Regions from separate parts of the Homo sapiens genome. Here region 2 is linked to region 1. A link means that fine-mapping ties the variant in region 1 to the expression of a gene that starts in the linked region. Tissue or cell type: whole blood. Region 1 holds a variant in brackets; the other region holds the start of a gene. All regions are shown on one strand. Distances are from middle to middle.

Region 1 (8,596 bases):
TGAGGCAGGTGGATCGTTTGAGACCTGCCTGGGCAACATGGTGAAACTCTGTCTCTACAAAAAAATACAAAAATTAGCTGGGTGTGGTGACACATGCCTGTAGTCCCTGCTACTTGGGAGACTGAGGTGGGAGGATCACTTGAGCCTGGGAGGTTGAGGCTGCAGTGAGCTGAGATAGTGCTACCATACTCCAGCCTGGGTGGCAGAGTGAGACCCTGTCTAGAAAAAATAATAAAATAAAATAAATAATAAAACAGAGATCCATCTAACAGATACTTTAAACATAATTTAAAAATGAAAAAATATTTTGAGGTTTCTATGTGCTAATCAAGATGTCACTGTGCTTATGTTTATACGTAATTTCCAAAATATATTATTAGACTTATGTGACTACGAAACAATAGACTTCTTAAAATGTATACATGGCAATAGTTTCTACACTTCAAACATCTCTCTGGCTAAATTAATACAAATTTTTGCAATGTGCCAATAATAAATAAGAGACAAAAAGAATTCCAGAAGCTGGGAGATGCAAATTAAACAAAGCCAGTGTAAGTCATTTCCACTAGGTTTCAGACAGAGATCTTTTATCACTGGTTGAAATATAACATTCTGGCACTACATCACAAACATGCCCCCTGATTCCCTGTATCTCACACCTAACGGGCTCAATACCAGTTCGTCATGACTCTGAATCTAAAGAGACATTGGCAGCACTTCATAAATACCTTCCTGTTCGCTCCTTTCTATGGTGATGCAATTTGACCTACATTTCCAGTGCCCATTGAAACTTCATGGGAGTGGGAAGATGAGAGTTTTTCATTTCTCCTACCCTCTGATTAACTAGGACAGCAAATGCCACTCAAGGGACTGCTACTGGGCAGAAGCAAAGGGGAAAAAAGTCATGCCAGTAGGAAATTCCACAGGAGGACATTTAGAAATACTGCATTCTCTGATTCTGCAAACAAACTGTCATGGCTTTATAAGACAACAGCAAGGAAGAACTGCCCCACTTTACACCATAATAAGACCAGAACACTAAGGACTATTTTATTTACCTCAGGCTCCCTACGGGATGAAAATTAAACTTGAACTATAGACTATTGTCCTTGCCATAGTCTTTTTTAAAAATAAACTTTCAATTTTGGGATGACTTTGAATTTACAGAAAAGTTGCAAAGATTATACAGAGAGTTCCTGTAAACCTGACACCTGGTTTTCCCTATTGTTAACCTCTTATGTAAGTATAGTATCTTTGTCACAGCTAATGAACCAATACCAACATGTGATTATTTATTTTCCTCCAGCTTTAAGGCATGAGTGACAAAATTGTACAGTGTAAATATGATCTTTTATGTATATATTATAAAATAATTAAATCAAGCTAATGAGCATATCTGTCACCTCATCTTTTGGGGGGTGAGAACATTTAAGATCTACTCTCAGCAATTTTCAAGTATACAGTATTATTAACTATAGTCACCATTACTGTGTAACAGATTCCTAGAACTCATTCATCCTAACTGAAACTTGTACTCTTTGATCAACATCTCCCCATTTCCCTCACCACTCCCCCAACTCCCAGCCTCTGGCAACCATTATTCTACTCTCTGCTTCTGTGGTTCAATGTTTTTAGATTCCACATGTAAGTGAGATTCCTGCAGTATTTGTCTTTCTGTGTCTGGCTTATTTCACTTAATATCCTCCAGGTTCACCCATGTTGTCAAAAATGAAAGGATTTCCTTCTTTTTTAAAGCTGAACAGTCTTACATTATTTGCATATATACACTGGATATCACATTTTCTTTTCCTTTTTTTGTTTGAGACCCAGTCTCGCTCTGGAGTATAGTGGCGTGATCCCAGCTCACTGCAAACTTCACCTCCCAGGTTGAAGCGATTCTCCTGGCTCAGCCTCTCAAGTAGCTGGGACTACAGGTGCATGCTACCATGCCCTGCTAATTTTTTGTATTTTTAGTAGAAATGGGGTTGCACCATGTTGGCCCGGCTAGGTTGAACTCCTGGTCTCAAATGATTCACCTACCTTGGCCTCCCAAAGTGCTGGGATTACAGGCATGAGCCACTGTGCCTGGCCTAAATATCACATTTTCTGTATCCATTCATCCATTGATGGATACCAAGATTGACTCCATATCTTGGCTATTGTGAATAATGCTGCAATGAACATGGGAGTGCAGATACCTCTGTGACATACTGATTTCCTTTGGATATATATGCAGAAGTAGGACTGATGGGTCATATAGTTCTTTTCTATTTTTAATTTTTTGAGAAACCTCCATACTGTTTTTCTTAATGGCTGTACTATAATTTACATCCCCACTACCAATGTACAAAGATTCCCTTTTCTCCACATACTAACCAATACTTGTTATCTTCTGTCTTTTTGAATAGCCATTCTAACAGGAGTGAGGTGATATCTCACTGTGGTTTTAACTTGCATGTCCCTGATGATTAGTGATATTGAGCATCTTTTCATATACCTGTTGGCCATCTGTACGTCTTGTCAATTCAGTTTCTTTCTCCTTTTTTAATTGGGTTATCTGTTTTGTTATTGAGTTCCTTATATATTTTAGATATCAACCCCTTATCAGATATATGGTTTGCAAATATTTTCTCCCATAGTGTTGATTGTCTTTTCACTCTGTTGACTATTTCCTTTGTTATACAGAAGCTGTTTTAGTTTGATGCAACCCCATTTTTCTATTTTTTGGTTACCTGTGCTTTTGGGGTGATATCCAAAAAGTCACTGCCCAGGCCAATGTCAGGAAGCTGTCTCTTTCCTCCCTTTTCATATTGCACTCTTTGGAAGGAAGTCACTAGGCACAGCTCAGACTTAAAAGATGGGCAGTGGGCTGGGCGTGGTGGCTCACAACTGTAATCCCAGCATTTTGGGAGGCTGAGGCAGGTGAATCGCTTGAGCCCAGGAGTTCAAGACCAGCTTGGGCAACATGGCAAAATCCCATCTCTATAAAAAATACAAAAAAAAAAAAAATTAGCTGGGCATGGTGGCACACACCTGTAGTTCCAGCTACTCGGAGGCTGAGGTGGGAAGACACCCTTGAGCCCAAGAGACAGAGGTTGCAGTGAGCTAAGATTGTGCCACTGCACTCCAGCCTGGGTGACAGATGGAGAACCTGATCCCCCCCAAAAAAATAAGAAAGAAAAAAAAAAAGATTGGCAGTGATGTTCCATCTCCTTGAGAGATGATTATCTGCATAAATCATTTGGAGTTCTTTTATATTAAAGATTTATCTATTCTCTCCCATTTGCTTATTTATCCAACCATTTATTTATACCAGTATGGCCTCATGGATATTTATGATTTTATATCACATATTATTTGTTTATATGTTTATATGAGCCTTTAAAAATATATATACTGTATATTTTATTTACATTTATTTTATATATTGGGTTACAATCTAATACTATGTTTTTTAGCTGCTCAAATTGTTCTAGGTTTGACCTTTGGGAGCTCTTTCAGTTGTCTCTTTGGTCCCTCTGACACACCCCATCATTGTGTGTGGAGAGAGAGAGAGTGAATGAGTGTGTGTGTGTGTGAGAGTATGTGTGTGTGTGTGTGTGTGTGTGTGTGTGTGTGTGTGCGCATGTTATTTTCTTACTTTCTGGAGCTAGAAGATACTACAGGCTCATATTGTTTATTCCCTGTCTCAGGCACAGAATCTCCTTTTAATGGAGAATGGTATTAGAAACCAAGATCTGGACACTGGGTCTTAATGTTTGACACTTTAAAATTTCTACATGAACTACTTCTATAGTAAATGAACAAAATTATCTCTTCAAGTATCTTCCTTTTGTGGCATAAAATAATAAATCACAAAAAGGATGCTTGGTAATCAATCAAGCTTGGTAATCAGGCTACCATCTGACTTTCAGGTTTGACAGGGTAAATAAATATCCTAATCAACCTCCCCCAGGAGAAAAAAATATTTTTTTTTCTGTTGTTGGGGGAAACAAGAAGAAATCTAGAATTAAATGCTACTTGTTTGCTATTCTATGCAATAAGGTATCCTATTTTCTCCCCTTAATACTAAATGATACTTCCTTGGTGTCAACTCTTAATTACCTGAGCTAAGGGTAAACAGAAATATCAATCAGATCTGGCTTTGAAATACACTCGTGATGACTTATGGCAGTTATACCTTCCTATTTATGTTTAAATAGAATAGTTACATAGGATTATTTAGGATAGTCACACCTATCTTATTTGCATATTTTAATGTTACAACTAGTTTGTTTTTTTTTTTAATTGGGAATAAATGAATCAGCTGAACACAAACACAGAGCCTGGAGCTTCTTGAGCAGCAGGGGTACCTAGTGGGAAGTGAACAGATTTCTAGAGATAACTAAATTGCCCAGACTGGAGTTAATCCCATGCAACACACACTGGACAATTCTTCACCTCAGCCTTCAACCAACCATTAACCTGCAATATTAACAAATGGACTATGCTAATAAAATCTCTGGTGACCTCAGACTTTTTTAAAGTCTGGGGCCAGGATCTAATACTGCTTTTCTCTATCTTTTTTTCACTTGGTCTGATTCAGATTTATATTCAA[T/G]AAACATTTACTGAGCCTCTACTATCCACCAGGCAGCACACCATGCCTAGTGCTTCCAATTAATCCAATAATGAGAAAAAATTAAGGGCCCTGTTTCCATTTTTCCCTTCCAGCAGAACTGCTGAGGTTGATGGAAGGTAAGCCAAGCCTTTACAATGCTGAAGGCTCAACAAGTTTTGGTGTCCATGTCTATAGCTGTCTAATAACACCTTAGAAAGAAAAGACCTCAACCTTTATCTGTAAAATAGATACTGTATAATCAAACCTACTTCTCAGGAAGAATGCATGGAAAACACACTCCTGGCACACACCACGAGCTCTTTAAGTACTGGCTCATGTTCATATTATGCATTTCATCTATGTGTTCATCCTAAACACATCTAGGAAACACCAAAACTGCCTCACTAAGGTGTTCGTTGCCTTTTTTAATTGCCAGTTTTACTTTCTAAGATCCTAAAATCATGATCTTTAAAAATGTCAGCACCTATGTCCCAATCAACCTGTCTGATAAATAAACAACACATATTCATTTAAGAGGCCAGAGGTCAAGTTTGGTGGCTCACACCTGTAATCCCAGCACTTTGGGAGGCCAAGGCAGGTGAATTACCTTAAGACAGCCATTCAAGATCAGCCCGGCCAACATGGTGAAATCGGTCTCTACTAAAAATAAAAAAAAATTAGCTGGGCATGGTGGCACATGTCTACATTCCCAACTACTTGCGAGACTGAGACACGAGAATTGCTTGAACCTGTGAGGCGGAGGTTGCAGTGAGCCAAGATTGTGCCACTGCACTCCAGCCTGGGTGACAGAGAAGACTCCGACCCAAAAAAAAAAAAAAAAAAGAATCAAAGGCCAGAATGGATAGGTCATATTAAAAACAATAACCGTTAATGTTGCCTAAAAGTTCATTTTATACCATGCACTGTGTAAATGTTGCACGACAAGCTGACAAGATAGATATTTTAACTATCTCTAATTTCCAGATGAGAAACAGGCTAGAGAGGTGAAGTAACTTGTGTAAGGTTGCCATCCATCTGGGTTAGGGAATCTGTCCCCAAAGGAAAACAGTAACAGCAGCAGCAAAATTATACTGCTGCAACTAAACATAAAAATCCATTCCTCACCTCACAATGCTGGTTCCTTTTCAAACACTGTCACACTGGGTGCAGCAGAATGAAATTATTAGTTAAAATGTGTTCTTTGCTAGAGATGCAAACTGAGAGAAGGGCTTTGGATACTTCTGCCCCCAAGATGGACTCCAAATTGGGACTTCCTGCTTCCAAAGTATTTTCAACAAATAAAATCCATCAAGGACTCCCCACAGTGTTTAGCAGAAAGTAACTCCCTGGCCTAGCCTGGCCCAGCAGCCGGTAAGCCCCTTTACTTTACTCTCTGGCCCAACCTTATAGTTCTTAGCCCTGTAGAATGCTCCAATCAAGCGGCTGGGTGCAGTGGCTCACGCCTGTAATCCCAACACTCTGGGACGCCAAGGCGGGCAAATCACGAAGTCAGGAGTTCAAGACCAGCCCGACCAACATGGTGAAACCCTGTCTCTACTAAAAATACAAAAAATTAGCTGGGCATAGTGGTGGGCACCTATAATCCCAGCTTCTCAGGAGGCTGAGGCAGGAGAATCATTTGAACCCAGGAGGCAGAGGTCGCAGTGAGCTGAGATTGCACCACTGCACACCAGCCCAGGCGACAGAGCGAGACTCCGTCTCAAAAAAAAAAAAAAAAAAAAAATGCTCCAACCACAATGAACAAGGCCAGTTTCCAGCACACTGAAAAGTTCTCTTAGAGTATTTGCACTTCTGGCTGCTTCTAGACCCAACTAACTTCTTCAGAAATCAGTTTAGAGGTCACTTATCTCTTCAAATAGGCAGAGTTAATCCCATACCGATTCCCTAAAATGGTTTAGGAGATTCCAAACCTACTCCCTCCTCAACCTCAGCATTCTCAGCATTGGTACTACTCAATCACAAAAAGGCATGGCTAAGAGTAATCCATTTTTTTGAATTAAACAGACCAGAGTTTAAATCCTGTTTTCTATTTTCAAACTATGTGACCTCAAGCAAATCTTTTCACTTCTCTGATGGGGTTTAACTGAAAAGATAATGCAAGTAAAGCACAGTCTGGCACATACTAACTGCTCAATAAATGATAGCCATTATCATCATTATTCCCATTCTACAGATAACAAATTGCGACTCCAAGAAGCAAACCACTAAAGGTCACACAACTGGTGAGTAGTAGGGGTTGGGTTGAAAGCAGTTCTTTTTCCCTTTTTTGCAAGTATCTATTGAGCGCCATGCTCAGCACTGAGGAGACAGCTGTGAAACAGACAGCAATGAACGCTGTTCTCATGGTGTTTACTTCTAGTAGGAAAGAAAGCCATAAAACCTTTACACAAATAAATTGAAAGAGTGCTTTGAATGAGAAGGGCGGCGTGTCTGAATACACAGGGTTTTAAAGCAAGTAACAAAGTCACTGAATTTTGTCTAGAAGGTCAGGGAAGGCTTCTGTGAAGAGGTGGCATTTAAAGGAGGCAAAAAGGTATGAGGGAGATGAGGGTGGCAGCAAGCACCCCAGACAAATGAAATCTCAGTAGAAAAGACATTGAGGAAGAACAGCAAGTTCAAGGAACTAAAAAGCCAGAGCACTTGGTGAGACAGAAGATGCAGGCAGGGCCAGATCAGAGGACCACTGAAAGATCTGTTCAAAGTTTTGGATATCATCCTTCCTCTAGGCAATGGAAAGGCACCAAAAGACTGGCTGCCCTTAAGGAAACAGCAATGAAAGGCTCACTCTGACACCAACTCCTTGAGTCAGGGCTATCTGGCACTTTTTTCATCTGTACTTCTAGGACACGGCAACTGTAGACTTTTGATAAATATTTGTGACCTGTCTAAAAGAATCTCTGATAAAGACAGACTACATCACTTTTCCCTCTTTTTTAGTCCCACAGCTGATGCTTTTATTAAAGCACCAATTATTATAGGTAAGTGTGGACCTCTTTTCACCATTCATATTTACAGAGTAAATATTCATCTTCCCATTTCTCAAACCTCAAAACTCAATAAAGTTATGGACTAAAACAGACTCTCTTTTGATAAGCTAAAAATCTGTTCTTTTTTTCTTTTTTGATACGGAGTCTTGCTCTGTTGCCCAGGATAGAGTGCAGTGGCGCGATCTCAGCTCACCGCAACCTTTGCTTCCCGGGTTCAAGCAATTCTCTTGCCTCAGCCTCCCGAGTAGCAGGGATTACAGGCACGTGCCACCACACCCGGCTAATTTTTTGTATTTTTTTTAGTAGAGATGGGGTTTCACCATGTTATCCAGGATGGTCTTGATCTCCTGACCTCGTGATCCACCTGCCTCGGCCTCCCAAAGTGCTAGGATTACAGACATGAGCCACCGCGACTGGCCACATCTGTTCTTGTATTTCTAGATCGGTGGAATAAGAATCTTTTTGCTAATTCACTCTGCCTTATAAAGATCACCTGAGGTCCGGAGTTCGAGACTAGCTTGGCCAACATAGTGAAACCCCGTCTCTACTAAAAATACAAACATTAGCTGGGTATGGTGGCACACGCCTGTAATCCCAGCTACTCGGGAGGCTGAGGCAGGAGAATCGCTTGAACCCAGGAGGCAGAGGTTGCAGTGAGCCGAGATCGCGCCACTGTACTTCATTTAGCCTGGGTGACAGAGCAAGACTCTATTTAAAAAAAAAAAAAAAAAAACTGAAGAGATAATCCATAAGGACTTAAGTTGCACTTTCCTTTTGCACCTTAACCTTAATAATAAAAAACACATTTCAGCAATGTGTCATTAAAAGTACAAGTTTTATATTTTAAGATAAATCACTTGTACAGTTCATATGCATATTTTTTAAATGTTAGTTTAATTTTAACCAAGAACAAAATGCCCCAACAGAAGGTCTTTCAGTGATTTTCCAATTCTTCTGAGAACTGTTCAGATTCTCTCTTTGAATATTTAAT
Region 2 (8,000 bases), 120 kb before region 1:
TTTTTCATGTTGGTAAATGTTTTCTTTTGAAGTGGGAAACAATCTTATTTTTAACCCTGGTTTCAGTCAAAAGTAACTATCCTAGTGTGAAATGATATCGCCAGGATAAACTATCTTTTGTGATTATTTTTAAAGCAGAAATGCCAGTTTCTCTTACCTCAGTAAAAGTTGATTTTATAGCAAATCTATCGAGTAAGAGCTAAATATTTTAAAGCTATGTCAAATTATGGTAATCTATTTCCTGTATTAGAAATAACAGCTTTAGGTCAATTTTTAAGCTATTAAAAAACAGTGTCTCTTAGGACAGAAACAGTGTAAAAACCACTTTTGTTAAGCACCCAACTTTTACCTGCCCCAGATGGCTAGAAGGATGCCTACAACTTGATCACTAAGCATGCAATACTCAATACACTTAGGATTTTGTGACTGAACACATTTGGTCTTTTATAACCTGACCAAACATTAACTGATAAAAGGCTACTAAATCATTAGCAAATCATTTCTGTAATTTCATATTCTGAATTAGTCCTTGGTGCTGCTGTTAACCTAATGTTTTTAAGATGAACAGCTGACAGCTGAAATATCTGCCCCCATGATTATGGGGGAAAAAGCGTGGAGGGAACTATGATAATCCCTGACCTTCCCAATGCTACATAAACTTGTAGTTGCTGGTAACAAACCTGTGCCTCCACAATGGCAATGGGGGAGTGGGGTAAAATCCCCATCTGGATAACATGAAAAGCTCTGATAATCACTAGTTTTGGTTTCAAAGCTGTAGAGCCACAGATTTGCATTATGCTTGTGTTTCTGAAGGAATACAAAGGCTATCAGGAATTTGTAGCAATCTGATCCAGGCCATTTTAACCTTGACATACATGGTCAAAGGGTATAACCTTTTTTTTTTTTTTTTTTTTTTCCCCATTTAAAAATATCTTACAGTGGCATAACTTTCCCTGTACAAATTGGGTTTAAGAAACAAAAGGGACAATTTGCTAATCAATGATGAGCCTTTAATCCAACCATTATATATCCCCTTTCCATCCTTAGATCCCTTGAAGAGACCATTTAGTTAAGACTACCAACAGGTGACACCCTGACCTCCTTACCAACCTTGCCTTTTAGAGGTGACCAGAGACCTGTGCTTTTCCAAAGTACTGTTATACGTGTAATTAGTATAATATCAATGTGGGGAAACTCTACCTTTGGATTTTGAGGACTCTGCTTTTCTTGAAACCCTCTGGGTTAGAGACTGTTTATTCATATGCACCTCAGGAACTTGAGGCCAAGATGAAGTTCACTGTTTCCTAGTCCTTTGCTTGTTCTCCTGGCCATTATGTTTCCACCTTCATTCAAAATGCCTTCTCTTTGAAGCTGCTTATAACCCAGCAACACCATCAACTCACTGTGCTCACTGTCCTCAATCACACATCTCCAAGTCACTCTCCCCTCTTCCATGCAAATCATCCCAGAACCAAGCAACCCTAATTTGAAATGGACAACCTATACAACACCCTTGGCTTCACAGTTCCTCAGCCTGAATTCCAGTGCTCTTTTCCTCCATGCTGCTTCTGTCCACTGCCATGGTTTCCACCCAGGAATCACAAGCACCTCTGGCCAGTTCTGCTTTTGAAAATAATACTGGAATTCCAATTCCTCTGGCCAGTTCTGCTTTTGAAAGTAATACTGGAATTCCAATTCCTCCATTCCCTGTCCTATTCCTAAAAGTGCTGTATCACTTTGATAACTCTGGCCCCTGGATCTCACCTTGTAGCCCCTCACTTTTATTGGCCATGTGGAATTAAATGTGGACTTTGCTCTGTGACCCTGAACAAATCAATTGTCTAATCATAGAAAAAGTTACCTGGAAGGAGATTCCTAAGACCTAACAAGAAGATAATTCCAGTCAAACCAATGTCTTAAGAGCACCTGCATAGATTCTACATGGTTGGCTTCTAGTTCTCTTCCCTGAATACCCAGTTCAGACCATCATCAATCACTCAGCCACATCTTCACTCTTTGGCAATCTCCCTGCTCAAGTTCTATCTTTTCCACCCAACCAATACATGCTGTTCCAATTATCCTGGAGAAAACAGCAGGGCAATAAAACGTTAACTAAATAGGTAGATAGCATTGGTAATTATAATGGGATTGACTCAAAACATCTAACCCTGTAAACCATCTCAATGCCTTCCCTTACCTCTCTTTTTACTCTACTGCTCCTTCTCCATTTGTCTTCATGAAAATAGTCTTCTCCAAGGTTTTGTCCTGGGTTTTCTCTCTGGGCCATGGAGGATGGGCTTCAGGTTTGTGATATCCTGGAAGCGGAATATAAAAATGTGGTGTGCCTGTGCCTCGGTCAGACAGGATGCATAACTTCATGTGACTCCTGGAGTCTGAGGAGGGAAAAAATTAAGAATCACTGTTCTGACAGACCTGAATTACCCTGGATCTGCCACCTATTCGTTGTGGGACCTTAAGCAAGATACCTTCTTAGGAGTTCCAATCAGTATGATTGGAATCAAAATACCTGCCCTATGAGGGCTTAGTAAAAGAGAGGATGTATATAAAATGCTTGGCACAGTATCTGGCATATTAAGTACTTCACTAGAGAAGTATTATTTTAACATAATAATAAGCCAAATCGAATAGCTACTTAATTTTCCCAGGTAAACTCCATCTACCCTTATGACCTCACTGATGATCTAAAACTGAAAGACAACTCTCCATCTTTATTTTCCAGCTCAAACCTCCCTCCTAAAGTCCAACCAGCCTGTACAGCCAGCTGGGCACTAAACCAGAATTTCCCACCAGCAGCTCAAATCTATCGTTATGTCTTTTTCCTTCTCTGTTACCATATCGCACATTTCACTTAAAGCTCAATTGGTTTGGCCAAGCTAGAAACCTGAAGTCTTCTTAGACTCACTCTTCCCTTTAATGTTGAACAGAGTTAGACCTCAAGGCTTGTTGGTTCTACTTTTTAAAGATTTCTGAAATCAGTATCACTTATCCTCACAGTCAGCCTTCGTTTGGAAACTTAATAGCTCTTACCTGGATTACAACAGCTTTGTAACTTATTTTTGTCCCAAGGTTCTCACCTGTTGATTCTGTCTTCCATTGTTATTGGAGGGCCATAGGTGGCAGAGATGTTTTTTCCACAAAGTATTAAATTATAAGTGATTCTCCCCTTCCCCCTGGAGACTTTTTCTTTGGCTGATAGCCTCACTCTCCCTTACCTCCTAAGAGATATTCTGGTCCATGGTCTTTGGATGTAGAAAATGAGGATAACAAGTGCCAAGAATTACAGCCTTACAAGGTGAAATACTACTTTAATTAACTTCCATTAACAACAGGAGCAAGAACTTCTTACAGAAAGAGGAGACTAAGAAAGGAGTGAGAAGGGAGAGGAACTTAAGAGTTGATTTAGGGGAGTGCTTTTTGTTAGGACTGGGGACAGGGGCAGGTAAAGACAGATCTTTGAAGCAAAAGAGAGTGAGAATGCAAGACATGGGGAAAGAGACTTAAGTGCTCCTTTGCTTTTCCACAGTTTTCAGTACAGATTTGAATGGCTTTGACTTTTGGCAGCTGCACAGTGCTAGGACTGGACCATGAAATATCTCTGGGCTCTGACAATTACATTTGGGTTAATCTAAGCCTGATCCCATGTGTTCCTGGAAGAGAAGCCCCATGACATTCAAAGTCCTTGACAATCTGACACCAGCTTTTCTAACCCTATAAGGCCCTTCCATCCAGCAAACTTCCTGCAGAATTATTCTCTATCCCTCACATGTTCATACCCATGCTCGACGCATTTGCTCTCTCTGCCTAGAATCTTACTCTTGTCTGCCTTTCTGCCTGGTTAAATCCCACATACGCCAAGATCCAACACTGCTAAACCCCTTTCCTTGAGTTGGGATCATCTTGTTATGCAGGGCCGGGATACCTGCAAGGGAATGGAATTAAAAAGGTTAAGAGATTGAGCAGTTGAACCTTTTCTTGGGAGGTTTGAGGACAAGCCATAGTGAAAGGATTTACCTACAGAGAGCACCTCATTATTAGATTTGTGGAAAGTACTGAGTGGATGGTTGACTCAAGTAAGGAGGGAATGGGAAGTCCACAGGGCAGTAGGAACTGAAGCCAACATGACTCTTTCATATCAGGTATGGACATTCTTGCTAACACACAGCGGTTCCTCCTCTTATTTTAAGCAACAAAAATAATTTATCAGAATGGTTTATTTGCAAACAGTAAAAATGTCTGGATTTCTAGAGGTAAATGATTATGCTGTGTTCCAAATAATACTAAAATGCACTTGTATTGCCAGTAAGGGAGGTATGTAAAAGAAAGGAAGAGATTAGACCGGGTCTGGATAAAAAGCTTATCTTAAACCAAAACTACATGTCATCAAATTTGCACCTAAGTACAAATAGAATGTGTTTCTCAATCCATCAACTCCCTCGTTTCTTTCACAAACATGCAAGGCCAGAATACAGTAATGTTCACTGTTTACACAGTTACTAATTTATCCAAAGCAAAGCTTTGTGCCCCCAGATGGAAACATCCCCAGGCCTTAGAAGTATTTAGCTTATATAAGAGGAAGGCTAAATTGAAGGGGCTTCACAAGGGTGTTCCATGCCAAAAGTGATGAAAAGTCAGAGTAGACTGAAAGGGTTTAGTATCACAACGAGGCAGAAACGTACAATATTTCATGCAGCCAACCTTATTTATTGAGAAGTCCTAATTTTATTGCCCGTTTAGTAACATGTTTGTTCCACAAGCTAATTTCTTATAAAGCAAAGCACAACCTTTTCTTATAAATAGTATAAATTATTTTATTTACAGAAACTTGTTACAAAACAAATAGACTATATATTTCTTCTCTTTTAAATATCCAAAGTAATTTTCTATCCCTTGACATTTGTTCATGTTCTATACAGCAGCCAACACAAAGTCCAGCTGAGATGCTCTTGATTATGTGTACAAATTATCAAACTATTCACACGTTTTTAACACAGGAGATTGCTTTTATAACCAAGCTCAAAAAAAAAAAAAAAAAAAAAAAAGCAAAATGCTTTCAAGGCCCTACATTCACACTGACAGTATGTAGTGCTCATTTAAATTATCTGAAAATGTAAAATGTTTTGCACAAAATGTAAAAGTGATTATTTTCTGCTAAACAAACTTTTAAGAATATTTTTTCAAAGCCCAATCGCCCCAAACCCCCTGGACAGAATGAGCGACATTAAGAAATTCCTTGGCAACAGAACTCTTGCAGGAAGACAGCTGCCCTTATAAGTTACATTTTTCAAATTATACATTTTTTTCAATGTTCTCAGAGGTACTTCTTTGTATTATATTTTTGGAATACAAAATATTTTAAATATTTTAAATTGTATTTCATGAGTGAATAACAAAACGGACACATCGTGTAAGTTGCTGGCTGACAAAAAGATCTGTAACCCTTGGTGCCACCAGGCAATCCATCACCAATTGAATTACTATGAACCAAGAGGTCTTAATTTTAAAATACCTTATAAAATTACCAGCATTGGTGGTTTTCAACTCCGCCCCTAAAATTTTAGAAACAATATTTAGGTGGAAAAAGCAAACTCCAAAAGTTCAACTGAACATTCAAGTCTTTTTAAAGAGATTCTGTCTAAGCTTAAAACTAGTTTCAGGCACTTTCAGTTTTTTCCATTAGTTTTAAACCACATCACATAGTAACATACATGTGCTGAGTATACACACACACGCACAGGCACACACACACGCAGTCACATACTCCCACACATAAAATACTAACAAAAGAAAAGCAGTGTGTCACTTAGTTACATGTAGTCTATCGGGAAACCAGGCAACCAGGAAGAAGCAATGCCCACTTCATCTGTATGAATCCACTCCCGAGACACTAAAAGGGACAAAGACTTTTCACAGAACAGAGGCATCCCTTAAAACTGTAAAGGAGGCAGGTTCTAGAACTATTGGCTTGGCAGTGAACCACTTCAAATTATAAAAAGGTATTTACTTTTATTAATTAATAAATAAATACTAGATGATCTCAATTGTACCAAAACAGGATATCAGAAAAAAAGACCTGTGCAAAAATACATATTTAAATATGTACAATTCATTTTTAACAAAATATGTCTTCTGAAATAGGGATACTTCCATATTTATAATAGAACAAGAAATTCCAAAATAAAGATACAAAAGTAGGTTTTGTATAATTCTTTGTTCATCATTGCAGCACTTTTTTTTTTTTTTTGTAGGTTAAGAAAACTGCAGGAGTTGTCATGAAATTCTATTGGAAAGAATATAAAAATTATCTTGGTTTTAAATTGATACCAAAGTCTGTCTAGAAACAACCCAACCACTGCAAATTTGGTTTTTGCAAGTTAATTTAATTCAAAAAAATACTTGTACTCCCGTGTTTTAAATGGTCTTAATTATTCATCACCATAAAAAGTAGTTTAGGAGAAAATAAAATATTTGAACAACAGTCTAAAATTTAATAGCACTGTTTAGAATAGGTCTGTTTGTGGCAGACAGAATCCAAAATGGCTAATTTCCTAATCCCGATGCTCTGTGTATTACCGGGAGAAATAATGAAATTCATTTAAAACCTCAGTCTAAGAAATCAAATGTTCAATACTTGCTAATCTAAATATCTACATTAGTCTGAATCAACTTGTTATTGTGGATCCTATTCACATCTTTCGGAACAACATGATCGATCTGTAAATTCCATTGCTAAAGGCAACTTTATTTATAACCATCAAGTCCTCTTGGCTCTGAAAATAAATTCTACCCATACCCCATTGCACTTGTCACCAAGGAATCAACTAGGTACGTTCTGATTCCCTCTCACCTCTCTCTTCCCCGACTGGGATGGAAACCAGACTGATTTCTCCCAACTATGCCAAACTGGCCCATCCATGCCCTCTCCTTACTAAGCTCTCCTGTAGTATCATTTTAAAAACATTTACTGATTGATTGCATAATAATTGAACAAGATACTGTTCTCTCCTTCCTTTAAAAAAATCAGTATTTTACATCAATTTATAGCTAAAGTATCTGCATAAAGTTTTTGTTTTCTTACATAATAAGAATAATTCTGTAGCAATTCACATTATTAGGCTGGTAACCAAGTTTATTCATTCTACCTGTTGTTGACTTGAAATTCCCTGAAACTGAAGTTTGAAACCCAAGAACTGTAGGAAAAAAAGAATGTACTGACTGGCTCTCATCAGGCCCTGGCCAGGGCAACGATCAGCGCCTTGGAAATTTTACCCTGTGTTCGGCAACTTCGTGTGTTCTTCTAAGCAACAGTGCCTGTTACTCGTGTCAGGAGCCTGTAGTGGTGGAAGCACCCATTTAAAGGCTCCGGCTCGTCCCGGAATTCAATGACACCTTCTCCAAGCAATGCTGTTTTAACATATTAAGGTCTTTCTTTAGGGGTGGGGGGTGGGGTACTAGAAAAAATATCCTAGAGGGCTCCAAAACTCTCAGGAAGATGGCTGGTATAATCCCAAGAAAGGAGGGTGTGTGTCAGGGCAATCCTATACATGCATCACAAAAGACCTTCAGGTCAGGACTTACATTCTCTCCAACTCCCTTTCCTTGGTGTCTGCTCTCGTCCCCAACCACATCCAAATAAACATCTGAAGTGGCATGAAGGGGAGTGCATACAAAAACACACAATGCCAGAAGTGCTTGAAGCAGAAATCTACACTTAGTCCCAGGACAGTATCCAAAGAGAAAAACAAGGGTAATGTAGAGAGTGCCTTGGAAACATTTAAGTGTATCTAATAATGTCACTTTAAAAGGTGACTTTTAAAAATAGACCAGGTAGGACAACCAACCCAATCTGCCATACTGTTTACTATGAAAACTTAAAAGGATTAAGAAAATTTCATCTCTTTGGAAATCTTGAAAAAAGTTTTTTCTCCCTATAGTGATTTTAACTTCCTCACTCCCACCCTCCCCCGACCCAATTTGGCCTT

The links. PIP is the estimated chance that this variant, and not a neighbour inherited with it, causes the effect.
Region 2: it holds the start of PSMD6-AS2, and the variant in region 1 is fine-mapped to the expression of PSMD6-AS2 in whole blood (TOPMed, PIP above 0.99).

Annotation. Positions count from the first base shown.
Region 1 is chr3:63,879,230-63,887,825 of GRCh38, reverse strand. All of the region lies in intron 1 of ATXN7 (ataxin 7), which reads right to left. Among named protein-coding and RNA genes, the nearest start is that of ATXN7, 20 kb to the right of the region's middle. The variant T/G (reference allele first, on the strand shown) is at 4,598.
Region 2 is chr3:64,000,266-64,008,265 of GRCh38, reverse strand. PSMD6-AS2 (PSMD6 antisense RNA 2) reads right to left here and starts at 4,244. Exons shown (of 3, transcript NR_038286.1): 1 at 2,198-4,244. It overlaps ATXN7 (ataxin 7), which reads right to left. Exons shown (of 13, transcript NM_001377405.1): 13 at 4,804-8,000. RefSeq lists an enhancer at 7,321-7,822.